Homo sapiens: one gene and its partners. The protein of the gene in region 2 purifies or fractionates together with the protein of the main gene of each other region. This does not show direct contact. Each region holds a gene or a part of one and is shown on either strand. Other genes may lie near its edges.

Evidence for each region.
Region 1: the proteins of NOP53 (region 2) and PUM3 purify together in Homo sapiens (affinity purification with mass spectrometry; 3 studies listed by BioGRID and IntAct, with this or other methods). This does not show direct contact.
Region 3: the proteins of NOP53 (region 2) and GLYR1 purify together in Homo sapiens (affinity purification with mass spectrometry; 2 studies listed by BioGRID and IntAct, with this or other methods). This does not show direct contact.
Region 4: the proteins of NOP53 (region 2) and ZC3HAV1 purify together in Homo sapiens (affinity purification with mass spectrometry; 2 studies listed by BioGRID and IntAct, with this or other methods). This does not show direct contact.

What each region holds. Positions count from the first base shown.
Region 1 is NC_000009.12:2,820,089-2,827,109, forward strand, and holds part of PUM3 (pumilio homolog 3), read right to left. Parts: coding exon 6,985-7,021; intron 4,728-6,984; coding exon 4,629-4,727; intron 3,747-4,628; coding exon 3,693-3,746; intron 11-3,692; coding exon 1-10. UniProt on the Homo sapiens protein: Inhibits the poly(ADP-ribosyl)ation activity of PARP1 and the degradation of PARP1 by CASP3 following genotoxic stress. Binds to double-stranded RNA or DNA without sequence specificity. Involved in development of the eye and of primordial germ cells.
Region 2 is NC_000019.10:47,748,525-47,755,545, reverse strand, and holds part of NOP53 (ribosome biogenesis protein NOP53), read right to left. Parts: intron 5,369-7,021; coding exon 5,260-5,368; intron 4,639-5,259; coding exon 4,439-4,638; intron 4,027-4,438; coding exon 3,956-4,026; intron 3,035-3,955; coding exon 2,939-3,034; intron 1,020-2,938; coding exon 915-1,019; intron 838-914; coding exon 655-837; intron 199-654; coding exon 23-198; intron 1-22. UniProt on the Homo sapiens protein: Nucleolar protein which is involved in the integration of the 5S RNP into the ribosomal large subunit during ribosome biogenesis. In ribosome biogenesis, may also play a role in rRNA transcription.
Region 3 is NC_000016.10:4,809,289-4,816,309, forward strand, and holds part of GLYR1 (cytokine-like nuclear factor N-PAC), read right to left. Parts: intron 5,360-7,021; coding exon 5,249-5,359; intron 4,668-5,248; exon of another isoform or gene 4,551-4,667; coding exon 4,449-4,550; intron 2,961-4,448; coding exon 2,798-2,960; intron 2,515-2,797; coding exon 2,335-2,514; intron 2,007-2,334; coding exon 1,882-2,006; intron 1-1,881. UniProt on the Homo sapiens protein: Cytokine-like nuclear factor with chromatin gene reader activity involved in chromatin modification and regulation of gene expression. Acts as a nucleosome-destabilizing factor that is recruited to genes during transcriptional activation.
Region 4 is NC_000007.14:139,106,711-139,114,714, reverse strand, and holds the start of ZC3HAV1 (zinc finger CCCH-type antiviral protein 1), read left to right. Parts: upstream 1-4,994; 5' UTR 4,995-5,383; coding exon 5,384-5,691; intron 5,692-8,004.

The DNA of each region.
Region 1 (7,021 bases), on a different chromosome or scaffold from region 2:
AGTATTGGCCCTGCAAGAATTGGAAGCCAGCAAAGGTTAAAAACAAGTGCATAGATCTTCCCTCTTATTTCACACATGGAATATCTTCATAAAGGTAGAGCGAGACTCCGCTCAAAAAAAAAAAAAAAAAAAGATTACCTACATTGACAACTTGTCTAACATAACAAGATGAATAAAAGCCATTTTAATGAACTTCCTCTCTTATCACGACCTCATTAATTATATTCTAGAGGTAAGGTTGATTTTTTTTTAAAGCACATTATTCATTACCAAATAGTCTAAAACTAATACCTATTTACATAGGTTACTGTTAATGAATAGCTACTTGAAAATTATACTTAAAAGTTCAAGTTATAAGATTAACTTCAAAAAACCTACATATATAAACACATATATGATACTCCAATCATGAAAAAGAAAATATAAACTCATACAATTTTACACACATACACACACACACACGATATACATAATACATGTACACAGAAAATCCTGGAAGGCAAGGCATTGTAATAGTCATCTCTGGGTTATACAAATGATTTTTAATTTTCTTTTCTATATTGCTCAATTTCTTTAAAGTGATCTCACAAAATTAGAATATAAATATGAAAAAATAAACTAGAAGAGTATAATTATACACTGAATGAGAATGATATAAAAATCATTACTTTAAAAAAAGTATAGCTGCATGAGATCACAGAAATACACATGTGGCTTTCACAACACTCATCTTTTGAAATAAAATTATTTCCATGATGCTAATACTGTTCCAAACATTTAAAGAACACCTACTTTATGTTAAGAACAAAAACAAAAGAAAACAAAAACCTGTTTCCAGAGCTTGTGGCATGAGTATCCTGGATGTTGATATAATTGTTTCAAACTCTGATAGGAATTTGATTTTTGATAATAGCCCACAATCATTCAGAGCCAGATCTGATAAATATCACAGATAATACAATTTCAATTAGAAACAATAACGAAGTTGCTAACTGTAAAGTCAAAAAGACAAACTGAAGACAAACAACAAAGGTCTTACTATACAAAGACCAACAACCAACTAAAAATGGGCAAAGCCAGGTGCGGTAGCTCACGCCTGTAATCCCAGCACTTTGGAAAGCTGAGGCTGGTGGATCACGAGGTCAGGAGATCGAGACCATCCTGGCTAACAGGGTGAAACCCCATCTCTACTACTAATACAAAACATTAGCTGGGCATGGTGGTGGGCGCCTGTAGTCCCAGCTACTCAGGAGGCTGAGGCAGGAGAATGGCGTGAACCTGGGAGGCGGAGCTTGCAGTGAGCCCAGATCGCGCCACGGCACTCCAGCCTGGGCGACAGAGCAAGACTCTGTCTCAAAAAAAAAAAAAAAAAAAGAACATGAAGAGTCAGATCACACTAAAACAGAAGTACAAATGTCTTTAAATGTATGAAATAATGCTTTATGAACTAATTAAGGACAATAATTAAAACAATGAAATGCCATTTATCCTATGGGTGATGGTGAAAACCTCTGACAATAGACTAATTTATCAAAGGTTTAGGGAAAAGCAGGCACGCTTTTATGTTGATGAGAATGTAAAGTGGTTCAACTTCTTTGAAGAGCAATTGACAACACCTATACAAATTTAAAATGCAGGTATGAGCTGATCCAGTGATTCTAGTTCTAGGGATTTATCTTGCAGACGTGTTTCCATGTAAGTACAAAGACTTACATATGAATATATTCACTGGGGTACTAATTGTAATTTTAAAAACTCTAGAAACTACCAAAATGCCCAACAGTGGGGACTGGTTAAATAAATTATGGTATAGGCACACGATGAAATATTACAGTCACTAAGAAAAGTGAGGTAGACAGATGTATGTATATTGAAATAAAATGACCCATAATATGAATTAAGTGAAGGAGACAAAATATAGAACAACGTGCCTAGTACAAAATCACTGGTTTCAGTTCTCTTAACTCGGACACACATAAGCATAACCAAGCATAAAATATTTCTAGGTGAATACAACAGAAGGTGGTACAGAATTGAATGTAAGTGAGAAACAGACAAATCCACAAGTATAGTTGGAAATTTTAACATGTTTCTCTCAGCAACTGATAGAACTAGAAAATAATAAGTCAGTAAAAACACTGATGGTATGAACACTGTCAACTACTTTGATCTAATTGACAAATATAGAATACCCCACCAAACAACTCTACAATATATTATTTTCAAAATACTTAGACCATATGTTAGGCCATAAAACAGGTCTCAGTAAATTTAAAAGGAACAAAAGAATATAGAATATATCCAGAAACCCCCAATATTTGGAAATTAATAATTCCAAATAATCCATGGATCAAATCCATGGGTAACGTTAGCTTATCACCCCTTTAGAAGTAACTCTTCGAGATTTAAAAAGATATGTACTTAGTGTTAAATTACCTGACATAAACAAACTGTAGAACTAAAACAATATAATTTTATTATTTTAAAATGTTATACTCTTAATACCTTTGTGAATTTTCTATTAACATTCTAGTTTTTACTCATTTTAATGTAAGGTATTCAAATTAGAATGTCACGCAAAAAAATTTACTTAATATTGAATTATGAATTATAATTATGAATTATATTTATATTTATAACATAATAATATAATGTTATATAATATATAACATTATAATTCATATTATAATTATGAATTATGAAATATATATGAATATTGAATTATGAATTATAAAAAATATGAGAATTCCATATTTCACTTTATTATAGGAACGTTAGCTGCCTTCTGAATTCTTCTAATTTCTAGCCCAACAGAAGACAATAGTCAAGTACACAATCACACAGCATTAATTTTAACTTGTTTGATTTAGTATTTCAAACAAGTTGAAGTATTCCCCAGATGCTAGTAGTTCTCACTGGATGTTTTCAAAGGATAAAGTAGTTGATTACTACATAATTTTAGTTCATCAATAAATTAGAAATTTGTTATCCATCAAATATATAAAGTATAACTCAAAAATTAAAATTGTATTCACTACATATATTCTAGTTACAGTACACCATAGCAACAGCATGAAAAATTATTTAATAACTAAAAACATATAAACACTATTTTTGAAGCAACAAATCCCCCAGAAAAAACTTTTGTACCTATGAATTTCATTAGGAAAATTGTTACTGCATTTCTAAAGAGCTATAAAATTTAACAACTAAAAATTTCCATAACCACACTGCAAATTTATTCTTAAAAAAAAGATACATTTTAATTTCTTTTATGGTTTTGGTCATAAGGAAAACTACTATCAAGTTTCTGAAGTGCAATCTGGCATCATTTACCCAGAGACTAAAATATGTACATACTGTATCCAGGCAGTAATTCCCATATTTAATTAACATGACTGGACAAATTCACCAAAAAAGCTAGTAAATATCAGGTTTTCAAAGAATATCTAATAAAAGTAGAGAACTATCACAATACAATGTTAAATTAAAAAAGGAGAAAAGAATGCATGTGACATGATTTCCATTTTGTGTAGATAAAATATGAAAATACATGTAGATGCAAAGAAAAATATAATAAAACAATAATTTTCTGCTTGGTAATTTTCTGAATTTTTCCAAATTTTCTATAATAGACATGAATTCATCTTACTATCAAAAATAATTAGAATATGTAGTTTTATTATACTTACATTAGCCACCTTTTCAACATAAGTCTTCATTGTTTTCACAATCACTTTCCTGTCCTTAAAAAGGAAAGATTGTCTCACTGAATTTTCAGTTATGTATTAAGGGTATTTTGTAGTTAAACATTTTAATATAATATTTATTAAGTTTTCATTTGAGTGGCATATGTTTTCATTAGTAAAAATAATAGTTATACAGCCAGAACAAAAAAACTGTAATATACCAAAGAAGTTGGCTTAGAGCTATTACAAGCTTAGATGTGTATGTGATAGGGTTAGGGTTAGGGTTAGGGTTAGGGTTAGGGTTTGCAAGCCACCTTTCACAGTGAGACCAGACAGATCCTTCTTCCAAGGTCTAAACTGTCCTCAAATGCAGAGTCTAGCAAACAGTTAGTACTCATCTGCATTTGTTGAATAAAATTAAATTTGCATTAAAAAAAGTAGATATAGTACAACTATCTTTTAAAGGCAGAATTATGCTGACCAAGGAAATAATGATAATTTCTGTTAAACTTCTGTGATTAATAAGGATCTTTACCTTTTCCCTCAAGTACATAACACCTATGGGAGCAAATGTGTGTGGCCAGCTGTTTGTTATCTCTTCCCATTTTCCCCTGCCACAGTATGATCATTAAAAGAGGAGGTACCAAAACCTCTATAAACTAAAGCTTAAATACATATTATGTTTACTTGCTTGATAGATCTCTTCCCATCCTTTAATGAAACTTCAAGGTTTCTACTAAAGCAGAGGAAAGAAGAAACACTAGGCCTAAAGAAGATGGCTCATTCCCATCAGGCTCTAAGGCACAACTTTTGGAAGATAATGCACAACAGGGCAAAGACCAAAGGGGGTTAAAAGTCTAAGGACAGCTAAGTCAAGCCTGCAGATAAAGCATGGCCCTGACTTGTACAGTTTAAATGCCCAAGTGCTGTCACACTTACCTTGGGCGTGCCATGCCACAGGCAGTGCATGGCCACTCTGGCGCCATCGTGTGTGTGTGCCAGGTAGACCACCGCTTCGCGGATGGCTTCAATCATTTCCTAGGGAACAAATGCTGTCAGGAACAGGGCTCTGCTTTATTTTCTTCTTTCTACTGTTTTATCTGTCTGTCTACAGGGGGCAGTTATGCAGAGAGAAGGAAAGGAAGAGAGTGCCAGGTAGCAAACAATTTCATTTTGTAGACAATCAAACAGAAACACGAGCTCTTTCTAGAAATGTTCTTTTCCATCAAGAGCAGTAAATACTGCTGGCAGACAATATCTATTAAAAACAATACCTGACTTTTACCAATGTCTGTTAAAAAAAAGGTCAAGCTATATGTGTAATATAATATATTCTAAATAATTTTCCAAGAAAAAGAAGCCTAGGAGGTGGTGGTGATAAGAAGGGAGCTTTTAACAGAATAGCGAGACAAAGAAAATGCTCTTCCCCAAAAGAGACCTGTATGCAATAAACAGAATCAAAACACTCATTTTGACTGAAAAGCTTCCCTTTTCAGTTCATAACTGGATTATCTCCAAAAATCACATTCTTTACCATAAACACGCTTACATAACATTTCCTCATGAAAAATTTCTATACTAACATTTAGACTAAGACCTCACCTATAAAATGACCCTTTAGTAAAAAACATTTAATTTCTCACTAGGTAGCTTAGCTTAATTTAACCTTTAGCCTTCATTTTCCATGTATATAATTTCTTATTTACATTTTCTTTTTTTTTTGGAGACGGAGTCTTGCTCTGTCACCCAGGCTGGAGTGCAGTGGTGCCATCTTGGCTTACTGCAACCTCCACCTCCCAGGTTCAAGCAATTCTCCTGCCTCAGCCTCCCGAGTAGCTGGGGCTACAGGTGCCCGCCACCACCCCCGGCTAATTTTTGTATTTTAGTAGAGACTGGGTTTCACCATATTGGCCAGGCTGGTCTCGAACTACTGACCTTGTGATCTGCCCGCCTCGGGTTCCCAAAGTGCTGGGATTACAGGTGTGAGCCACCGTGCCTGGCCCTATATTTTCAAAGTCTAAGGCATGTAGGATGTAAATGAGTTCTGGCAACTAACAAGTGCAGAGCTCCATTTTAGTCTATTCCCAATTTAAAAATGTACATTAAATAAATACAAAGCCTCATGCCACGAAAGAGAGGGTAGGTGCCTAATTTCATCAATAAGGAACAAACAATTTCAGCCTCAAGTATCTAACAATCCCTTCCCAAGATGACTCTCAAGAGCAGTTTCAACTAACATATCTGAACTTAGGAATCTCTTCAGAGCTATCCAGATGGAAAGCCATGCATATATTCCAATTATGCTTCCATTTTCCCCGAAGGTTTTTTTTTTTTTAAGTCTCTTTTGAAAATGCCCCCAATACCAGAAAAGACAATTTGTCTCATTACTTTACACGCATGCTAAGTTCCAAATGATTTTTTGCTGTTACTGAAACATTCAACACTAAAAAGATACTTTCTACCACTGAATATATTCAAATAATCATTGTGTCATTTCTGAGCATATAGTCCTGCCTCAGAACCGTGGGATACTGTATTTTTCAGGAAGTAAGAAAAATCTCCAAAACAGAAGGTGCTGCTATGGTCATCAAACCATAAGCTTACGTGGGTGGCTACCATCAGGAAATTATTTTGCATGCCAATTTTAAGAGGGTCAAAACTCCAATGAATGTATAGTCTGGCGTTATTTGTTAAGTCAGTCTCATTATTTTCATTATCCCTTGTGATTGGAAAATGAGGACAAATGGACAATGAGCTCACTGTATGATGAGGCAAGCAAAGTTCAGGGAACTAAATGATGAATTCTCATTTGTATTCCCATGACTGACTTGAAGGGCAGTGCAATTTACCTTCACTCTGTTCTTCTATGATATAAAGTCCAGGTTTTCATCGTCCACTTAGTTTTACAAACATATCCTCCTCTAACCTTTTAATGCCAAGCTAATTTTTTTTTTGTATTAGCACAGTTGAATTTAAAACTATCCGAATGCTTGAATATTCCTCCACGAGTTAGTTAATTTTCAGATTAGGTTAGCCAGCGGATACTCTCTGGATTATAATTAAGATATAAAAATTTAATATGATTAGTAAAACTAGGGTCAATTCTATTGTTTACTGGAATAAAACCTAAATGGAATTAGCAAACGTGTTCAAAGGGAGTTGAGTAAATTATCTTCCCTAAATAAGGAAGCAACTCTAAAATTTCCACAAGACAACGTACATCAAAGCAGTTTTTCAAATTTCTACACCGCTCCTCCTCCATGTTTTAGTTTAAAAACAAAAACCAAGAACTTACTGATCTGAGTTTGGGGGGTGCATAGGTAAAAAAGTCC
Region 2 (7,021 bases):
GAACCCCCGGCCTGGTTCTCACTTGAGCCGCCCCAGCCTTCGGGGCTTGTCAGCCTCAGCCTCCCGCCGCGCCTGCCGCCGCCTCTGCCGCCGCGCCAGCTCCGCCAGCCTCAGGGCCACCTGGGCCTTGATCCCGCGCAGCCGGAACAGCTCCTGGTGCCGGAGCCGGGCGGCCCGCAACGCGGCCTGCTGTACCCGCTGTGGAGACGGGGGAGGGTCAGGGCTCAGGCCGGTGCTGCCCACACAGGGAGACCTTCTCTCTACACAGGGAGCCTTCCCTGCACAAACCTGCCTGTCCCCGGAGGCCCTTCCTAACCCCGTCACATCAGCGGCCCCTCCAGTGCCTTCCCAGCAGCTGTTTGCTGAAGCCCCTTTTGTCATCCATCTCCCCTGGTCTGCGGTGCAGAAACCTCCCCCCACCCCGCCCCTCAAACAGAAGCGCCAGGGACCCTGTCCCACCCCAGCCCGAGCCCTGCCTGGAAGAGGCTGGGAAATGAGTCTCAGCTGTGAGGATCCCAAACAGCCCAAACCACAGGCCACATGCGGGGCTTGGGGTGTGCAGGCTGCCCGCAGCACCCAGGGCAGCCCATGGTGGGAGGAAGGAAGGAAGGGGGCGAGGCATCAGAGGCAGGCCCCGCTGGCCCAGGCGCTCACCAGCCTGTGCACAGCCTTCTCCCGCCGCCGCTGCTGCTCCGTCTTCTTCTCTGTGGTGGCCAGGCGGGCGGGCGTGGGACAGACCTCGGCATCCCCAGCCTCCGGCCCCTCGCCCTGGCCTGGCTCCCCCTCACCATCCGACTCCTCCAGCAGCCCCTCGCACAGCTCCTGGAATGTGGACTCCTGGGGAGGCGGGGTGCAGTGTCAGGGGTGGGTAGGAGGCCCGGGGAGGGGAGGGAGTGGGCAGGTGCGGGGCTCACCTGGGTGGCGGCCTGCTCCGTGGCGGGCAGGGCCAGCTGCCGCTCCAGCTTCTCCGCCTCCTTCTGCCGCTGCAACTCCACCTCGTGGGCCGCTGAGAGCAGGGTCTGAGGGGCGGGAGTGAGGATGGGTCCCTGAACCCCTCCTGGGACACTGAGACTAGACCCTCTTACCTCCCATCTGTCCCTCATCCAGTGCCCGTGGATCCCGCCCCGGCCCAGGCTTTCCTCCCCACACCCCGTCTACCAGCACACCCACCCTGCACAGAGCCAGAGGGCACCTCAAACCCTCGCCCTCACACCTGCTCTGCACGTCTGTGAAGGCAGTCTGACCTGCACGCTTCACATTTTTTTTTTGAGATAGAGTTTCTGTCTTGTTGCCCAGACTGGAGTGCAATGGTGTGATCTCAGCTCACCACAACCCCCGCCTCCTGGGTTCAAGCGATTCTCCTGCCTCAGCCTCCCGAGTAGCTACTATTACAGGCATGTGCCACCATACCCGGCTAATTCTGTAACTTTAGTAGAGATGGGGTTTCTCCATGTTGGTCAGGCTGGTCTTGAACTCCTGACCTCAGGTGGTCCACCTACCTCGGCCTCCCAAAGTGCTGGGATTACAGGTGTGAGCCACCATGCCCGGCCCACAGTTTCATCTATGTGAATTGGTCAGGGTGGGCTGGTCCCTGAGACAGGAAGCCTGGCAGCCCAAGACCACACGAGACAGGGAATTGCGGGGGTGATGGCTGACATGTGTGAGGTTTCCTTTACGGACAGTGAAAATGTTCTAAAATTGACTGCGGGGATGGTTACACAATGGTCACTAAAAGCCACTGAATCACATACTCTAACTAGGCTGACCGTATGGTTAAGTGAATTTTATCTCTACGAAGTAGTTCTGTACAAATCTAAAAGTGAATGTCTGATCTCCACGCCCCCTCCCACATCTGGTCCAGGAACAGATGGCAGTGAGCGGCACCCTCACGCTTTCAACCATGAGCACACTGTTGCTTTTTTCCGCAGACACTTTTCTCTACCAGATGAGGAAGCTGCCTCTGTTCCTGGCTAGCTATCTCCTTCTTATGAATGCTGAAAACGATTCGGACAAGCGGTCCTGCATCTACCGCAAACATCTCAGCATCTCTCCAGTCACGTGACCCCATGAGAAGGGCTGTTCCTTGAGGGAGGGTTGTGCTTGTTTTTTGAGTCTCGCTCTGTTACACAGGCTGCAGTGCCGTGGTGCGATCATAGCTCACTGCAGCCTGGACCTCCTGGGCTCAAGCAATCCTCCCACCTCAGCCTCCCAAGCAGTTGGGACCACAGATGCGTGCTGCCATGCCCTGCTAATTTTCTGTATTTAGTAGAGACAGGGTTTCACCATGTTGGTCAGGCTGGTCTCCAACTCCTGACCTCCAATGATCTGCCCGCCTCAGCCTCCCAAAGTGCTGGGATTACAGGTGTGAGGCACCGCACCCGGCCAAGGGAGGGGTTTTTGTCCCCTTTGTCCACAGCATCTGTGCTCAACAGATGCCCGCTAAATGCACAGTGGCTCCAGCTAGACTTTCCCATCGCTGAGCTAGCCTCGCCCATATATAACTGTCACTTGGCTGCCAGTGTGCCACCGTGTCACCACAGCCTTTTTCATCTCTGCCCCACAGGCTTCCTGGAAGGCGCCACGGTCTCTCTCAACTCTGTGCCTTTGCAGTGCTGTTCCCACCACCTGGAAAACCCACTCCCCTCCTCCCACTGCAAACCCCTCCCTCAGCCTCTGCCTCGGCTCAGGCGACCCCTCCTCCCGGGAGCCCTTCCTGACCCCCCAGGCTGGGCCAGGTGCCCCGTCTGGGCTCCCAGCCCCAACCACTCTGCCCATCACTGTCTGGGAACAGGTCTCTTGCACTGGACCGTGAGCCCCGTTGCGGACAGGCCCAGGGCTGTCTGGGTCATTGGAGTTCCCAGCACAGGGAGGAAGCTAGTGAAGGCCTGACCAAGAGGCAGAGCCCACTGAGGAGGGAGGCCTGGACGGGGCAGTGTACCTGGTGGTCTTCAAAGGATGGATTGTAGGAAGCTCCGGCAGGCGCCACCTCCACGGCGGGTGCCTGGGACGGCTTGGTGTGCAGGCGTGCTGGCCGCTGTGGAGAAAAGGCCGAGGCAGGGTAAGGCCGTGCGTTGGGGCTGCGGGTGACCCAGGACACAGCCATGGGGCAGATGCTCCAGGCCTTGCCAGTGGTTGGGTGTGGGAAGAGCTCAAGGGGCATTCAGGTGACTCCAGAGCAAGACTCCATCTCAGAAAAAGGATAGCAGCCTATCCTCTGCTACCCACGAGGCTGAGCCCCGGAGATTGTAAGCACCTGGGCTCTAACACTTGGGGTCCAGCAGCTCAAGAAGGAGGCTGCAAATCCAAACTCAAACCCGTGACACTTCTGCCACTTGCCAGCACGGGCTCCACCTTCTCATGTGCTACCTCTTTACATTCTCCCCACCGACCCATGATCTAAGTACAATTTCATCTGTATTTTATTTTATTTTTTTTTTTGAGACAGAGTTTCGCTCTTGTTGCCCAGGCTGGAGTGCAGTGGCATGATCTCGGCTCACTGCCACCTCCACCTCCCTGGTCCAAGCGATTCTCCTGCCTCAGCCTCCCTAATAGCTGGGACTACAGGCACGTGCCACCAAGCCCAGCTAATTTTTTTTTTGTATTTTTAGTAGAGACAGGGTTTCACCACGTTGGTCAGGCTGGTCTCAAACTCCCGACCTCAGGTGATCCACCTGTCTCGGCCTCCCGAAGTGCTGGGATTACAGGCGTGAGCCACCATGCCCGGCCCTCATCTGCATTTTAGAGGAAGATATAGGTTGCAGAAAGGTGAGACCACCTTCCCAGGATCAGTCAGCACTGGAGCTGGGACAGGAATCCCAGCCACCTGGCTCCAGCACAGAGTTCTCGGCCACTGGGATGGAAGGGCTCTGAGACAGACTCTACTGCAGGAACACAGAGCAGCTCCCGGCCCTCCTCACCCTCCCATCACCCAGGATGCCCTTCCCACACATCTCACCTTCACTCCTTTCTTCTTGGTCTGCTCCAGGAAAAACTCATCCTGGCCAACCAACGGCCTGTCCAGGGGGTCTGTGGATACAGCGAGGGGAGCTGCTGGGACAGTCCCAGCATGGAAGAGGCACCAAAGGCTCCCCCCCAATCCCTCCACATTTCAAAAAGGTGACCCTGAAGCTCAGGCAAGGGAAGGACTGATTCTAGACCCCAAGGGCCTTGATCACCAGGACAAAACTGTGTCTGGACGGGTTCAGAAAGTGGAAGAGACCAAAGCTGAAGGCTTCCTTTCCTGAAGCCTCACAACTCAGGAAAGGAAAAGCACGAGTGGGAAACGGCCGCCCCTTCAGGACGCACGACTCTGCTGGGAGGTCACCAAAGCACCCACAAAGCACTCCCTTTCACACTGTACTCTCGTGCAGTGCACAACACACACAAACTGCACATGGCCGTCCTGTCCCCATTCATAGGTGACAGCAGGATCACTCACTGTCTGAGGCCCAGAGGTCGTAGAAGGGCCGCTCTACGGTGTCCTGGGGCCCGGGCTTGGCCCTTGTTGCAGAAGGGTTGAGGAGCCGGGCCTGGGCCCTGCGCACCTCCCGGGGCAGCTCGCCCTGCTTGGCCAGCTTCTCCCATAGCTGCTCCTTCCGCCTGAGCTTCTTGGCGTTGGGGACCTGGTGGGCGAGGACGCTGGTCGGGGAGAGGGGGCACAAGTGCAGCAGGTGAGGTGGCAGCCTGAACGGCAGCAGGGCCTCCTCCCCGTCGGGCTTCCTCCACCATTAAGGCAGCTTCAGCACCCCCTCTCCAAAAGGTGGCACTCCGCCCCCTCTTCAGAGAACTCCTCTCCCCACGTCTGTCTCCAGCCTAGGCCTCCCCTCTGAGCCCCAGACTCAACGAAGCAACAGCCCCGTCCTGGACATACCCCAGGCACCTCACACCACCACGTCAAAACCAACCTCAGCATCACCCGAAATCCCACTCCTCCACATCCCCATCTCAGGGGAAGGCCAGCTGTCCACCCTCTCACCCGCTCATGCCCCAAGACCCACCTGATGTGCCTCCTGAACACGCCTCCCACTCAGCCCCTCCTCTCCAACCCCGAAGCCCCCAGCTGGGTCCAGGCCCCTCCTCACCTGCCTCGGCCCAGCACCAGGGCACCCAGACTCCCTCCCTCTAATCTGCACTCCGAAGCCCAAACCTGAGCCTGCCCTACCCTTCAAATGACCCTCACCTACCAGCCCCCAGCCCCGGAAACCCTTTAGGACCAGAGTCTGGTGGGAAAGAAGGGCCCAGGGATGCTGGGACACTCACTCTTTGGGGGCAGGGACTTTGGATGTGTTCTCGAGGATGAGGTCAACCCGAAGGGGTTTCTTGAGAAGCAGTGACTTCTTCTGGACTTTGGTTCTCTTCTTTGTCAGCCCTAAGAATGGGAAAGAGAACAAGTCAAGGCCTCAGCCCTACCCACTGCCAAAGACCACCCACCCTATTCACCTCCATGGGAGCCATCAGACCTGAATCCCAAGTCACCCCAGGAGACTTGGAGGTCCCCAGGCTCCTACCTGGAGGTAGAGGCCCCTAAGGATGGGGCCCAAGGTGCCCAAGCTCTGACCCTCCACAACCAAGTGCTGGGCCAGCAGGAGGCAGGCCCCATGCTGGGGACACGAAGAGTCACGCCCACAGCCACATAGGAGGGTCTTCCAGACAAACAGGGAACCTCTTCCCTGCATGGTGGCTCACGCCTGTAATCCCAGCACTCTGGGAGGCTGAGGTGGGAGGATCGCTTGAGCCCAGGAGTTTGATGCCAGCCTGAGCAACATAGTGAGATCTCATCTCAGGGGGAAAAAAAAAAGGAAGAAAGCAAGTCATCAGTTGACACTGAAGCCCAGGGAGGGCCACAGAAGTGGACTTGGGACCCAGGATGGCCACTTCTCAGCATAACTTCTAGTTCTCTGGTTTTTACTGTCTTTTTCCTCCCACAAAGATACCTGTGGTTTTTACTTCAAAAGCCTAACAGTTAAAAGCAGTAACTCTACAGCAAAACACTCTAGAATGGAATAACACCCTTGCATGGACTGTGGGACCTCACACAAGAGGCTTAGCTCCTCCGTGCCCCCAAAATGAGGATGTGGATACCTCCCTCACTAGGCCGTTATGAAGATGTAATCATTTAAGGCCCACAAAGCACAGGGGCTGACCTGGTTGACTGCTCACAACCACTATGATCTTTGTCCGTGTTTCCTTACTAAAGTGGAACCCATAAACTGCCTCTTTCCTGCCCCCCAAAGAGGCTTCCCACTCGCCAAAGCACGCCGGTAACTACTTTCCCATCTGTTCATTACGGGCAGGTCACTGACTTACCCTTTACACTCACACACCAGATCAACTCACTTCGGTCAAGGCTGACTTCTCTAATAACCCCCCACTTTTTTTTTTTTTTGAGACAGAGTCTTGTAACCCAGGCTGGAGCGGAGTGCAATGATGCGCTCTTGGCTCACTGCAACCTCTGCCTCCCAGGTTCAAGCAACAATCCTGCCTCAGCCTCCTGAGTAGCTGGAATTACAGGCATGCGCCACCACGCTCGGCTAATTTTGTACTCTTAGTAAAGACGGGGTTTCTCCATGTTGGTCAGGCTGGTCTCAAACTCCCGACCTCAGGTGATCCACCCGCATCAGCCTCCCAAAGTGCTGGGATTACAGGCGTGAGCCACCACGCCCAGCTTGAGACAGAGTCTTGCTCTGTCGCCCAGGCTGGAGTGCAGTGGTATGATCTTGGCTCACTGCAACCTCTGCCTCCCGGGTTCAAGCGCTTCTCAGTAGCTGGGATTACATGCGTGTACCATGACGTCCGGCTAGTTTTTGTATTTTTAGTAGAGACGGGGTTTCGCCATGCTGCCCAGGCTGGTCTCCAACCCCTGACCTCAAGTGATCCGCCCCACCTCGGCCTCCCAAAGCGCTGGGCTTACAGGTGTAGGCCACTGCACCCAGACTCTAATAACCACTTTTTACCTGCCTATTGGAAGTCTCCTGTACCTCAGGGCAGCTCCTTCCACTCTATCTGGTCACTGAACCAGGTC
Region 3 (7,021 bases), on a different chromosome or scaffold from region 2:
CAAGCAATTCTCTGCCTCAGCCTCCTGAGTAGCTGAGATTAAAGGTGCCTGCCACCATGCCCAGCTAATTTTTTGTATTTTTAGTAGAGATAGGGGTTTCAACATCTTGGTCAGGAGAATGAGACCATCCTGGCTAACACAGTGGAACCCCGTCTTTACTAAAAATACAAAAAATTAGCCAGGCATGGTGGCAGGCGCCTGCAGTCCCAGCTACTCAGGAGGGTGAGGCAGGAGAATGGAGTGAACCCGGGAGACGAAGCTTGCAGTGAGCCGAGATCGTGCCACTGTACTCCAGCTTGGGTGACAGAGCGAAACTCCGTCTCAAAAAAAAAAAAAAAAAAAATCATACAGGCAGCTGGTTGTGGTGGTTCATGCCTGTCATCCCAGCACTTTGGGAGGCTGAGGTGGACGGATCACCTGAGGTCAGCAGTTCAAGCCCAGCCTGGCCAACATGGTGAAACCTCATCTCTACTAAAAATACAAAAATCAGTTGTGTATGGTGGTGTGTGCCTGTAATCCCAGCTACTCAAGAGGCTGAGGCATGAGAATCGCTTGAACTTGGGAGGCAGAGGTTGCGGTGAGCCGAGATCGCGACACTGCACTCCAGCCTGGGCGAAAGAGCAAAACTCTGTCTCCAAAAAAAACAAAAAAACAAAAAACAAAAAAACAAAAAAAACCCAATACAGGGCAGGGCATGTTCTTTGATCATAGAGCAGTAAGTTAAAAATCAATAATCATTAGATATCTAGGAAAACCCAAACACTAGATAAACTTTTAAGTAATTCATGGATCAAAGAAGAAATCAGAAAACAAATTAACACGGATTAGTGGACATTTAAAGATTTATATACTCATGTTATAAAGAAAGCAGGATTAAAATAAATGATTTAAGATTCCACTTTAAAGGGTTTGAAAAAGAACAAAGAGGCCAGACACAGTGGCTCACACCTGTAATCCCAGCACTTTGAGAGGCTGAGGCAGGTGGCTCTCCTGAGGTCAGGAGTTGGAGAACAGCCTAGCCAACATGGCAAAACCCCATCTCTACTAAAAATACAAAAATTAGCAGGGCGGGTTGGGGCACGCCTGTAATCCCAGGCTACTTGGGAGGCTACTTGGGAGGCAGAGGCACAAAAATCTATTGAACCCAGGAGGCAGAGGCTGCAGTGAGCTGAGATCACACCACTGCACTCCAGCCTGGGCGACAGAGTGAGACTCTGTCTCAAAAAAAAGAAAAAGAACAAAGAAAAGCTAAACTAAGTAGAGGGAAGGAAACGATAAAAGAAAAAGAAACTTGGCCAGGTGTAGTGGCTCACACCTGTAATCCCAGCACTTTGGGAGGCCGAGGCGGGCAGATCACGAGGTCAGGAGATCGAGACCATCCTGGCTAACATGGTGAAACCCTGTCTCTACTAAAAAAAAAAAAAAAAAAAAAAAAAAAAAAAAAATTAGCCGGGCGTGGTGGCAAGAGCCTGAGGCGACAGAGCAAGACTCTGTCTCAAAATAAAAGAAAAAGAAAAAGAAAAAGAAACTGAATGGCTGGGCGTGGTAGCTCATGCCTGTAATCCCAGCACTCTGGGAGGCAGAGGCGGGTGGATCACCTGAGGTCAGGAGTTCGAGACCAGCCTGAACAACAAGGAGAAACCCCATCTCTGCTAAAAATACAAAAATTAGCTAGGCATGGTGGTGGGCACCTATAATCCCAACTACTCAGGAGGCTGAGGCAGGAGAATTGCTTGAAACCAGGAGGCGGAGGTTGCATTGAGCTGAGATCGCACCAGTGCACTCTAGCCTGGGTGACAGAGTGAGACTCCGTTAAAAAAAAAAAAAAAAGAAAGAAAAAGAAACTGAAGGGCCTTGGGGCTTGGGCCACATCTACCCTACCTCATTTGCTGCAGCTGCCATGGGAGTCGGATGGTTGACCGCATCACCCAGCGCAATGGCTAAGCGGAGATCCTTCTGAATGTATTTCAGGTAGAAATCAGGCTTAAAGTTTCCTTGCAGGATATCTGAGGAGAAAAAGCCAGTATCAGACAAAAGCCAAGGACCTGAAACTAAAAACTACTTACGGTCCACCAGGTGTCAGTACCTAAAACATACTCAGGGCTCAGTTCCACATAGCCTAGGCCTCTTGGCTCCTCACTCACCCTTAGACACCTGAGGGCTGCAGCTCCCAGCCTATATCCCCAAATCCCGCCCACTGTGTTTCTGAACCTCCTCTGGCCAGGGTCAGGGACTGACTGGGGAGGGGCATCTTTCACGCTCACTAAATCCCTGACCTAGTACCCTGCTCTAATCAAACACCAAATGCAAGAAGAGGGGCCAAAAACAACTCACTTTGGCACTTCTGGTCCAGGAAGATGCTGGCCAACTGTCCCTGATTGAGGATGTCCAAGAGTGTCTGCTGGGACTGGCCTGTCACCTGGGCCAGGGTCAGCCCCTCGGCAATAGTGGCCATGAAGCTCCCTTGGACCATGTTCACGATCAGCATCATCTTGGCTGCATTGCCCACTTCACCTGCCCAGGGTAAAGACTCACGGTCACAGCCCAAGAATGCCACAGACAGGGCTTCTCTGTCCACCCTCACCTCTGCTCAGACCCACCTCTCTCCAGGGGAGGCCCCCTTCACCTGCCCCCGACAGACTGGCTCTTCCTCCTTCCACGCACTGACTATGCAGGTGAAAGGAAACCTTCCCCAGGGTCCCCGGCAGAAAGGCCGTGTGGGACTGACGCTGTCATCAGTGTGAAACAGAGGAGATGTGGCCCCAGGCTCCAGGCCTGACAGGTGCAGGCGTGTTACCTAGGAAGAAGGAGGTCTTCCCCATCGCCTGGAAGCAGCTGCTGCAGTCCTCATATAAGCCCCTGTCTCCAGCCGCTAAGATCACCAACATCCCGTCATTAGACAGCTGCTGATTCCCTGAGACGGGGGCTTCCAGAAAGCGCCCCCCCCTGGACACAATCACCTGGAAAGAAAAGTCACAGCTTCTGGAGGCCTCCCCTCTCCCAGCGCTCTCTGGGCAGGACTCAAGGAGTGTTGCTGAGTGGCCACGGCTGCTCATCACCTTCCAGAGCTGGAGGGGACGGCCACCCATACCAAGGTCCTTTAGCTGACACCTAAACTCAGGAGCTAACCATGTGCAGGTCACACAGGCCGAATCACAGCAGTGATGAGACGCTGGGGTCTCCACACAGGAACCCAACTGACTTGGAATTTTTTTTTTTTTTTTGAGGTGGAGTCTCGCTGTCGCCCAGGCTGGAGTGCAGTGGAGCGATCTCGGATCACTGCAAGCTCCGCCTCGCGGGTTCATGCCATTCTCCTGCCTCAGCCTCCCGAGTAACTGGGACTACAGGCGTCCACCACCACGCCTGGCTAATTTTTTGTATTTTTAGTAGAGACAGGTTTCACCATATTAGCCAGGATTGTCTTGATCTCCTGACCTTGTGATCCGCCCGCCTCGGCCTCCCAAAGTGCTTGGATTACAGGAGTGAGCCACCACGCCTGGCCGGAATTTTTTTGTTTTGTTTTTTTGAGACAGAGTCTTGCTCTGTTGCCCAGGCTGGAGTGCAGTGGCGCAATCTCAGCTCACTGCAAACTCTGCCTCCCGGGTTCATGCCATTCTCCTGCATCAGCCTCCTCAGTAGCTGGGACTACAGGCAACCGCCACCATGCCTGGCTAATTTTTTTTTTTTTTTTTGAGACGGAGTCTTGCTCTGTTGCCCAGGCTGGAGTGCAGTGGCACGATCACAGCTCACTGCAAGCTCCGCCTCCTGGGTTCATGCCGCTCTCCTGCCTCAGCCTCCCAAGTAGCTGGGACTACAGGTGCCCGCCACCGCGTCCGGCTAATTTTTTTGTATTTTTAGTAGAGATGGGGTTTCACCGTGTTAGCCAGGATGGTCTCGATCTCCTGACCTCGTGATCCGCCCACCTCGGCCTCCCAAAGTGCTGGGATTACAGGCGTGAGCCACCGCGCCCGGACTGGAATTTCTTAGAGACCAACAACTAGAACCAGATGTGACCATGTCAATGGCTCGGCTGAACACACACCTCCCCTGTGGATGCTGCCCTCCCCTCAGAACATATGTGGGTCCCAAAGTCCCCACTCCCTTATTTGGGCCAGATGCTCGGGGAGGAGGGATGCTTTGCCAGTGTCAAATGCAGACAGCTGCTCAAACCCCAATGCCAGGCGGGCGGCCTGGGTTGCTTCTCATCATAAGGCTGGCAGCTCCAGGACTTGATGCCCATCCCAGCCATGCAGCGACTGCCCATGGCTGTTCAGACTAGCTGCGGTTTGAAGGTGGAGCACGGGATAGGCTAGTCCCAAGGCTACTCGCCTCTCCTCTTCCCTCTCTGGCTTTGGCTCTAGAGTAACTTAACTGCCCACTCTTGTAAGCCTGGGTCTTGGGCTCTGATAGAAAAGATGCTGGAGAGCCAGCCCAAGGAAGGCTGCTACCTGGGCCAGCTCAGTGACGGTGTCAGCGTCCACTGTTGACATGTCCACGTAGCACTTCCCAGGGCGGATCCCTTGCAGCACACCACTGGGGCCCAGCACCAGCTGTGGGGACACAAGGGAGAAGCAATAGCCCAGGCTCCCGGGCAGATGCTCAGGAGCCCTACAGACCTCAGATCAGAATCCTGCTGCTGTTTTGGCTCATTTCCTGATTTCTATCAGCTGAAAAGGGAAGAACAATGAAATAAGCAAGGGATAGAAAAGTACTTCCCGCATGCTCCCATTTATCTTTAAAAAGAATCTATGTGAGTGTGTGCATTTCTTTTTATTTAAAAAAAAAAAAAAACAAACCCCATTTAAAAGAATAAACCTCAGCATTTACTTTGGGGACTTCTTTGGATTTACTTGGATTAGGCTAGTCACCAGTTTAATAAGATGACTACCACACTTGAACTTCTAAAATATACAAATACAGTGACAGCTAAACATAGAAGCTTGGCACCTGGACCAAAGGCACATTCAGTTCCAAAGCTTCTAGTTCAACAAGAACACATGAAGCCTGTTCAAGACACATTTCAGCACAGACTTCAAGGGCCCTAGTAGTGTTCATTCTTTGATCTGAATTAAAGGAAGTCTGTATTCAATTAATGCAAACACCCTTCACAATGGGAGATGGCCCCTGATGGGAAATTCAGCCCCCCACATGTGGACACTCACTTGGTGTGCAGGGGAGGAGGGGAAGAGGCCAGCCAGCAATCCTGGCTGTGACCCGGAGTTGCTGAGGGGAGGGAGGGGGTCCTTACGTCCTTGGCCGCCTTGGGATCCGACACGCAGGCGAAAGTGATGTCGCAGGTTGAGACGACTTCAGCGGGGGTTCTTCCCAGACGGGCCCCCTCCTGGATGAACAAATCACACTGCAAAAGTCACAGATCCTAACGTGAGCTGCAGGCAGTGCACAACAAACATGCCAGCCAGGCCAGAGAATTGCTGACCAGGCCTCCTGGCGGCCTACCAAGGCAGGAGGCTGAGGCCGGGAGCCTGGGTCATGGAGATAGGAGCCCAACTTTTGGGGAAGTGCACGGGGCCTTTTACTGGCCATCTTCAGTTTTTGCATGACGAGTGCCTAGGATGATGAACTGCTTCACAAGTGTCTGCTGAAGGTATGCTGTTTCAAGAATGGGGTATGAACAGTAGCACCTCTCCCCAGCCCCCGCTGTGCTGTCCTGGCTGTGGCCCTGAGCTATCAACACTCTGCTGGGAATGTGGGGATGTCGCTGGAAGCCTTCCACCTGGTGGCCATTCGTTTTTGGGTTGTTTCTCAACACTGTTGTCAGGTTAATAAGACTTCTGGAAGTGCCTAAAAACACTACCATTTTGGCTTTTTTTTTTTGAGACAAGGTTTTGCTCTGTCACCCAGGCTGGAGCACAGTGGTGCAATCATGGCTCACTGCAGCCTCAACCTCCTGGACTCAAGTGATCCTCCTGCCTCAGCCTCCTGAATAGCTGGGACTATAGGTGCATGCCCCATGTGTGATTTTTTTTTTTTTCTGTAGAGACAGGGTTTCACCATGTTGCCCAGGCTGGATGGGCCTACTATTTTCTATCAGACTTTTAATGTTGTTTATGATTCACATTTATCTATATTGTTGTCTTTCATAATTCTGGCATAATTATGGTTTATAGTGGTTGACTATGGAAAACTTCACTGAGAGATATACTGTGATTTACCTAATGGCTGACCTGTAGTTTGACACTTAGCCCACTTTCAATTGTAAAATCACATCACCAAACATCTTTACGTACAAAACTTCTCTATGTTTTAAATTCAGGTCTCCACAAATAGAATAAAACAGGTTCTAAAAGTTTTAAGGCTCTCAACAAATGTAGACAGATGACTTCCCAATGAGACTATGTCACTTCATAAAGATCACCAGCAAGCTCTCCTATTATGCCAGTACCAAGTATGTAATTTAAAAACTACAAATAAGTGCCCATAAATACATGTAAAATTCTTCCTACCTGATCATTTAACCAGTCAAAAAAGGCAACTGTTTCATTTTTTTTTTTTGAGACAGAGTCTCGCTGTCGCCCAGGATGGAGTGCAGTGGCACGATCTCAGCTCACTGCAAGCTCTGCCTCCCAGGTTCACGCCATTCTCCTGCCTCAGCCTCCCGAGTAGCTGGGACTACAGGCGCCCGCCACTGTGCCCGGCTAATTTTTCGTATTTTTAGTAGAGACGGGGTTTCACCGAGGTCTCGATCTCCTGACCTCGTTATCCCCCAGTCTCTGCCTTCCAAAGTGCTGGGATTATAGGCATGAGCCACCGCACCCGGCCTTGTTTGATATATTTTAATTACTCCTGATTACCGAATATTTTTTATGCCTTTGTTTCCTCTTTTGTGAGCCATTTTTTTGTCCTTTTTCTTTTCTGAGACAGGGTCTTGCTGCTGCCTAGGTGGGAATGCAGTGGTATGATCACAGCTCACTGCAGCCTCTACCTCCTGGGCCCAAGAGATCTTCTGGCCTCAGCCTCCCAAGTAGCTGGGACTATAGTAGGCAGGTGCCACCTCACTCAG
Region 4 (8,004 bases), on a different chromosome or scaffold from region 2:
CAGCACCCCTCCCCCAGCCTCACCTGTGGTCATGTGAGGGGGTCCCATATAACCAGCTAAAGGAGGAGGGAAAAAGACCAAGTTTGCGTTAAGGATGGGCTAGCTTAATATGTGGGTACAAGCTGAAAATGCATGGCAGCTATATTACAGTCTCACTCAGGGAAGTCCTTGAAAAACAGTGGTAAGGGAAAATCTCCCCAGCGGGAGGAGCTTTGAGAGTGTACCTAGTCATCACTTCGTATGGAAGGAGTATGGCCTAGGGTTAGAACATACATGGTCTCATGGGCAGTGATGGTGGCCTGGCTGGGAGTTTGGGAGCCTAAAAGTAAAAGGAAGCATATGAATAGATGTATGGAAGTGGGCAGTTCATATCACATTAAGACCCACAAAAGATGTGCCAACTACACAAAATAACTTGGCCAGTTAATGTTGGCCAGGCTTAGTGACAGGCCCCCTCCCCCACTGCTGCTCAAAGAGGCCATGGTGGCCAGGAGATGGAAGCGATGCAAGAACCTAACAGCATAGATTATCATTTGCCAAAATAAACACAGCTACTGCCACCTCTGAGTGTCTGATCTGCCAGCCATAAAGACCAATGCTAAGCTCTATTCCTTAAGGAGACCAATAGACTACTTGGGGACCAGTAGACTGCATCGGGCCCCTTTTGTCCTGGCAGAACCATCGGTGGTTCTCACAAGAAGAGGCAGTTATTCTGGATTTGGGGTTGCCCTTCCTCCCTGCAGAGCCTCAGTAGTAGCACTCTTTTTTTTTTTTTTTAGATGGAATTTCACTCTTGTTGCCCAGGCTGGAGTGCAATAGTGCGATCTCAGCTCACTGCAACCTCTGCCTTCTGGGTTCAAGCGATTATCCTGCCTCAGCCTCCCAAATAGCTGGGATTACAGGCGTGTGCTACCACACCCGGCTAATTTTGTATTATTAGTAGACACAGGGTTTCACCATGATGGTCAGGCTGGTCTGGAACTCCTGACCTCAAGTGATCCCCCTGCCTCAGCCTCCCAAAGTGATGAGATTACAGGCTTGAACCACCGTGCCCGGCCAGTAGCACCACTTTCTGGAGACTTAAAGATTGCCCGATCCACAGACATGGAATCACACTTAACATAGCATCTTATCAGGTGAATCTTTTCATGGCACAGAAAGTGGAGGGAATGAACCCATGAACATGGTACTATCCATGGTCCTATCATACACTTCACCACCCAGTAGCTATAGGATGAAGTATTGGAATGGCTAGTTAAAGATGGAGTCAAGCACCAGAATGGAGCTGATACCCTACAATGATGACACAGACTCCAGAACATCGTGGTATATGCCTTGAATCGGTCAAGTTAGTATGGTACTGTGTCCATACATGAGTCTGGAAAGAATGGGTAAGCCTGAGTGGCCCTACTTAGTATAATTCCAATGACCCCCTGCAATTTCCTCTCCCAGCAATGCTGGGCTCTGCAGAGTTATAGGTCTTGGTTCCCCAAAGGGGCACACTCTTGCCTGGAGATACCACAGAGATCCCACTGGACTACTGTGATGGCTGTCACCAGGTACTTTGGCCTCCTAATGGTCAGAGACTAGCAAGTAAGAAAGGGAATGGCCATCTTATTCGAGGTAACTGTTGCTGGTCAGCAGGAGGTGTGGCTGTTGTTACACAATGTGGGCAGGTGGAATATGTATGGAATTCTGGTGACCTATTTTGGTGTCTCTTGGTAATCCTTTGCCCAGCTGGGACTGAGATGTGCTCAGACCACTTTCAAATAGGGCACCCGACCAGATTAAGCTACTGAGAGCAGCTGAGGTGGTGGCCAAGGGTGAGAGGGATTGGAATGGATAGTGGTAGAGGGATATGATGAGGACCAGACCACCAGCTGTGGCCTTGAGACCAACTGCAGTGACAAGGACTATAGTTCATTCCACTAATTTCTCTCTGGTAAGCTTCCTTGTAGGAAGAGTGACCCTGAAAAGCCTGTTCCCTAAATACAAATGGATAAAGAAAGCCATGTAGTACAAAGGGTGGACTACAGCTGACACAGGGTGGCACTCAGGTCAAGCTTGCAGCCCAGCTTTGAGGAGCATGTTTAGCCAATATCCTCCAGCTTTAGCTCTTTCAAGATCTGCCCCAGCATTCGAGCTGAAGTCATCCACTTCTCTGGTGGCCCCCACCGGTGACTGAGCAAGGCAGTACAAGGGCCTAGCCTTTTCTGTCCAAAGCTGGACTCCTACTCCAGAGCTCCTCATTGGGCTGGCAGAGACTTTGTTAGGTCCGCACAAAAGTCTGATAGGCCCCATGGATCAATCATGCTTTTTCCTTTGACTTTTTCTGGCATTATGCCCCAGAAAAAGTGCAGAGAAAGTTCTGCACTCTTAACTCCATGTCAGGATCTCCTTCCTGGAGAACCCAATCTCTGATGGCACATATTTCAAAATTTTTCAAAATGTCTCCTTTTCCCTTCCCAGAACTCCTTAAATCACCTTTCTCTTTCACTTTCCCTTTCTTTTTTCCTTTCACTTTCCCTTCTTTTTTCCCCTTTTCCTTTTCCTTCCTTTTTTTCCTTTTCCTTCCTTTTCCCCTTTCCTTTCCCTTCTTTCCTTTCCCTTCCTTCCTTTCCTTTCTCTTCCTTTCCTTTCCCTTCCTTTCTTTCCTTTCCCTCCCTTTCCCTTTCCATTTCCCTTTCTCTTTCATTTTCACTTTCCCTTTCCCTTTCTCTGTCACTTTCCATTTCCGTTTCCCTTTCCCTTTCCCTCTCTTCCCTTTCCAAAAGGATCTTCCTCTGTTGCCTTTGCTGGAGTGCAGTGGCACAATTGTAGCTCACTGCAACCTTGAACTCCCGGGCTCAAGAAATCCTCCCGCCGCAGCCTCCCAAGTAGTTGGGACTACAGGCACATACCACTATGTCTGGCTAATTTTTATTTTTAGTGGAGATGAGGTCTCGCTATGTTGCCCAGGTGGATCTCACAGTATGTTGCCCAGGATGGTCATGATCCTCCCGCCTTGGCCTCCCAAAGTGTTGGGATTACAGGCACAAGCCACTGCACCTGGCCCTTAAATCATTTTTCATGGCTTCAAATTGGAGGAGATTCTATGTCTGTACTCCCAACCACTGTAGCCAAACTAGACTCTTCAGTCTCTCATCTTCTATATTCCCATTGTGGCATTTACCCATGAATTTGCTTATATTTCCATGCATTTTTTCATGTCTTCGCATACATGCTCCTTGAGTGCAGGGACTGTTTTTTAAACTTCTGCATGTCCTTACATTACTAACTAATGTAAATACCACATAGAAGATAGTCAATAAACATCTAGAACTTAGTTGATTTGATAATAAAAGGTCCCTGGGAACCTGTCAGACCACAAATAAGGCCAAGTGGATTAAAAGACAACTATAGAAGCAGCAACTAGAGGGAACAAGATGTCCCTCTTAGACATCCTAAGATGATCCTATGTGGCCCCCATGTTTGGCTGGTTTTCATAACAAAGTACTCTATTCCTGAAAGAGGGTTTATATACCATGAATGACAAAACTGAGGAGAATTCTCATTAATCATTTTGAAGAATTTCTAAGTTAGCAACCAGAATCTATTATTTTTTAAAAAGATGTATTTCTTATCTGATCAAATGACCCATCTATTTTATTTGAAGATGTTGGAAAAAAAAACCTTTTTTCTCTTCAACTTGTGTCCTGTCTTTGGGGGCCTAAAAATTAACTGGCACTAGACAGATAAATAGGAGAAAAGACAAAGTTTATTTACACATGCATGCAGGAGCTTCCAGTAACAGAAAACTCAAAAGTAAAGGTTTATATACCTCAACTTAACAAAAAGGAAAGTTTTAGGGCTTCAGTAGGAGAGTTTGGAAGTTTTGATTGGGTTGTTTTGTGTTTTTGAGACAAAGTCTCAGCGCTATCCCCCAGGCTGGAGTGCAGTGGCACAATCCCGGCTCGTTGCAGCCTCCTCCCGTGCTCAAGCAATCCTCCCACCTCAGGCTCCCGAGTAGCTGGGACTGCGGCTGCACACCACCATGCCCGGGTTGTTTTTATTATTATTATTATTATTATTATTATTATTATTATTATTATTATTGAAGAGAGCTCACTATGTTGCCCAGGCTAGTCTTGAACTCCTGGGTTCAAGCAATCCTCCCACTGCCTCGGCTTCCTAAAGCGCTGGGATTACGGGCTGAGCCACAGCACCCAGCCCATTGGGTTTTTTGGTGCTAATGGTAATGGGACAGTCTGTCTTCCTGGCAGCTGAATACTCCGAGAGGCTTTTAATGGCACCATGTTTTCGGGAGGTTTTGCTTTAGTCAGATAAGGGAAGTTTCATTAAGATTTCTTTCTACATCTTCTGTAGCTCAATGTTTTCACTTAAAAACAATCTTTATGTCAACTCTGGGGGTCAAAGTACGTCCCCACGGTGGAAAAGTTCTTGTCCCAATCTCTACGGGGAGGAACCGATCTGAAATCTTGGGATATGTCTTAGCATGTCCACCGTGATTGAGGTACAAGCAGTGGTTCAGGGCACCGAGTTAGCGATTCTAGGTAAGCAAGACCATGTCAAGAAGTGGTTTGTCCAAAAGTTCGTGAGAAGGCAGAAACGAGGGAGAGTGGCAATCGTTGTTCTTTAAGAGGGCACGGTGGTGGAGGAGAAACTTGCACATCGGGGCCTGGGGTACCACGATCTGGGGCCTGGGGACGCGATTTGGGGAAACTCGGTGGCATCTGGGCTCCGCTTGATGCCAGTGCGTGTTCGTGCAAGTTACTTCCTCAAGTTCAGGGTGAGGATAATAATATCTACCATGTGGAGTTGCTGGGAAGATTCACTACCAACAGAGGCAGAGCGCACGGCTCGCAGGAAGCGCTCGCTAGGGTCTGCTCTTTCCGGGAATGGGTGGGGTGCGCACTCCTCAACAGGGCTCTCAGGACTTGCGTCACACGCCTCAGTCGGCTGGCTTATAAAACACCGGCCAGAGCCCCAAGATCGCTTTTAGTTTCTCTTCTTTCTAAAGAAGGCTCGCGGAGCCCGGCTGGAGAACCTCACCCTCGCCGAGCCTAGAACCGAGAGGGGGCCACCCCAGGCGGTCACCAGCAGATTTGCCCGCGCGTTCTCTTTCTTTCCACCCAGTTGCCCTTGCGGCCGGCTGTAAACCTGCCACTAGGACCCGGTCGGTGAGATCTAGCCTCTTGACCTGAGAGCCGAGAGTGGATCGCTGGGCTGGGCTAACGGCGACGGAGAGCGCGCCCTCGCTGACTCCGGGCGCGCCCAGCAGTAGCACCGCCCGCGCCCGCCCCTGGACACTTGTAAGTTTCGATTTCCGATTTCCGCGGAACCGAGTCCCGCGCCGCGGCAGAGCCAGCACAGCCAGCGCGCCATGGCGGACCCGGAGGTGTGCTGCTTCATCACCAAAATCCTGTGCGCCCACGGGGGCCGCATGGCCCTGGACGCGCTGCTCCAGGAGATCGCGCTGTCTGAGCCGCAGCTCTGTGAGGTGCTGCAGGTGGCCGGGCCCGACCGCTTTGTGGTGTTGGAGACCGGCGGCGAGGCCGGGATCACCCGATCGGTGGTGGCCACCACTCGAGCCCGGGTCTGCCGTCGCAAGTACTGCCAGAGACCCTGCGATAACCTGCATCTCTGCAAACTCAACTTGCTGGGCCGGTGCAACTATTCGCAGTCCGAGCGGTGAGTGCACCCGGAGGGAGGGGCGCTGTCCGCAGCCGTGGTCGGGGTGGACTGTCCAGGCGGGCAATGTTCTGGGAGGGGCACGGCTTCGCCGGGACCCCGCACCTGACAGCCTCCGCCTCCAGCCACTCCCTTCTCTGCTCCCCTCTGGGAGCCTCTGCAGGGCCCGCGCTTCTACCTTTGCAGTTCCCTTCCTTCCGGCACCTCCAGACATTTTCTCGAGAATGGCTAAAATGCTAGTGCCTGGAGGAGACCAGGCTCAACCTCCACCCCTTTCCCCGCCCGCCCGCACGAATCAGAAGAATAAAGTGCTCTGGAGCCAGCCAGGGCCTAGAGAAGCGGTAGGCAGGTTTGGGAAGGAAGGAAAGAGCCTCCCGTCTTTGGTATCTTGAGTCTTTCCCTCCCTACTACCTCCTTCCCTAGACGTGGCGGAGCCAGTAACCCAGCCGCCCTGGGCCCCCGGTCCGTCTCCGCCGGAGCGAGCCGCAGGTCTCTCTGCTTGTCCCTCCCTTCCCGGTCACCCCCATGCCCCTCATCACCGCTTTTCTGATGCCTGGCGCGTAGCAGGGGTGGCCCTTTTCCAGGTTCCTGAAGTTGTAGCAGCCGCGGGCCTTCCCTCCGGGTGGTCTCTCTACGGTGGCGCGCGCAGTTGACCGCCTGCCTTGGGACAACTCTCTTAAATCCCTTTGAAGCAGTGTGGCTCACGTCTCGGGCCACTGCTTCTGTTGTTTCCGTTTGCCTTTTTTTTTTTTCGTCTAAATGCAGATGCGCTGCAAGGTTTGGGTTAAGACTCTTGAGTGATTTTCTTCCCAGTTTCTCCCTAAGAGAGCTTGCTCCCTCGAGGACAGCTGCACATCTAAAAAGATGGCTTCCAGGTCCACATTCGCTGCCCAGGCCTTTCCCTTGATCCCAAGCCCTTCCTCTCCCGCGTGTGTCCTGTCCATGGAGTCAAACTCATCTTTTCCCCCAGGCAGGGTTTTAATCCTCCTCACAATCTGTCATCACCAAGTCCTTTTTGTGAAGTCTCTTTCCCTTCTTGGCGGATTCTGCCTTCCCATCTAATTTCTGAATGAACTGAATGAACGCCTTGTTGAATTAATGAATGGCCAGTCTTTCCTCCCACCCTTTCTGTCACTATGTGCTCTGCTCAATTACTTTTCTCGATACAGTACTTTTTACACTTGGCCCATTCTTAAACACTTTGACTTGTGTCCCAGGGTTTAAAATGGTTGTCAGCAAACTTTTTAGGCTGGAGTGCAGTGGCTCCACCTCGGTTCACTGCAACCTCCACCTCCCAGGTTCAAGCGATTCTCCTGCCTCAGCCTCCCGAGTAGCTGGGATTACAGGCATGCACCATCGCACCCGGCCAATTTTTGTATTTTTAGTAGAGACAGGGTTTCACCATGTTGGCCAGGCTGGTCTCGAACTCCTGACCTCAGGTGATCCACTTGTCTCAGCCTCCCAAAGTGCTGGGATTACAGGCATAAGCCACCAAGTCCGACCAGTCGGCAAACTTTTGATCACGCACCTAACAAAAACTCCAGTCACTCACCCCCAATATACGTGTAATAAAACACACAAAGGTAAGTGTTTTAGATGGATGAGGTAGAGGACGCAATGTATTTTTTTAAAAATTTCTTTAGAGCAAAAACCCTTTCAGCTCACTCTAACGTTTTTAAAAAGTGCTTGAATGTGTTCCTTTATTTAAAATTTTCTTTAATATGTTGTGGGGCAACAATTTGAAGGTTGTTTCTGAGTTGCTGGGAGTTATGGGTATCGAGGAAATCATCTAAGTCATTGCTGGTCACTGAAGAAATCTCTGAGAAGGAGAAGAGAGCAGAGGGTGGAGGATAGAAAAGGAAGGAACATTCTAGCATGTTCTAGCACTACACCAAATAACATGGTTGGAAGGCTTTGTTATGTTTTTTCTGTTCTTATCTTTTCTATTATGACAAATTCTTCACCAACTAGTGTTGATTTTTAGTATGAAATACATATGCTTTTTATTTTTTTATTTCTTACTATGGATATTTTCAACATACTCAAAAGTAGAGAGAAAAAAATGATGAAGCCCCTTGTACCCATCATTTCAACAGTTTTGAAAATATGGCCAGTTTTGTTTCATTTATTCTCCCTATTCCCCATGTGTCCCCAACTCCAATGTGTTATTTTAAAGCAAATCTCAGCAACCATTTGATTACTAAGTACTTTAGTATCTCTAAAACATAAGAACTATGTTTTATTAACATAATACAGTACAATGATCACATTTTTGTAAAAAAAATTACAATTTTAATATCATCTATTGTCCAG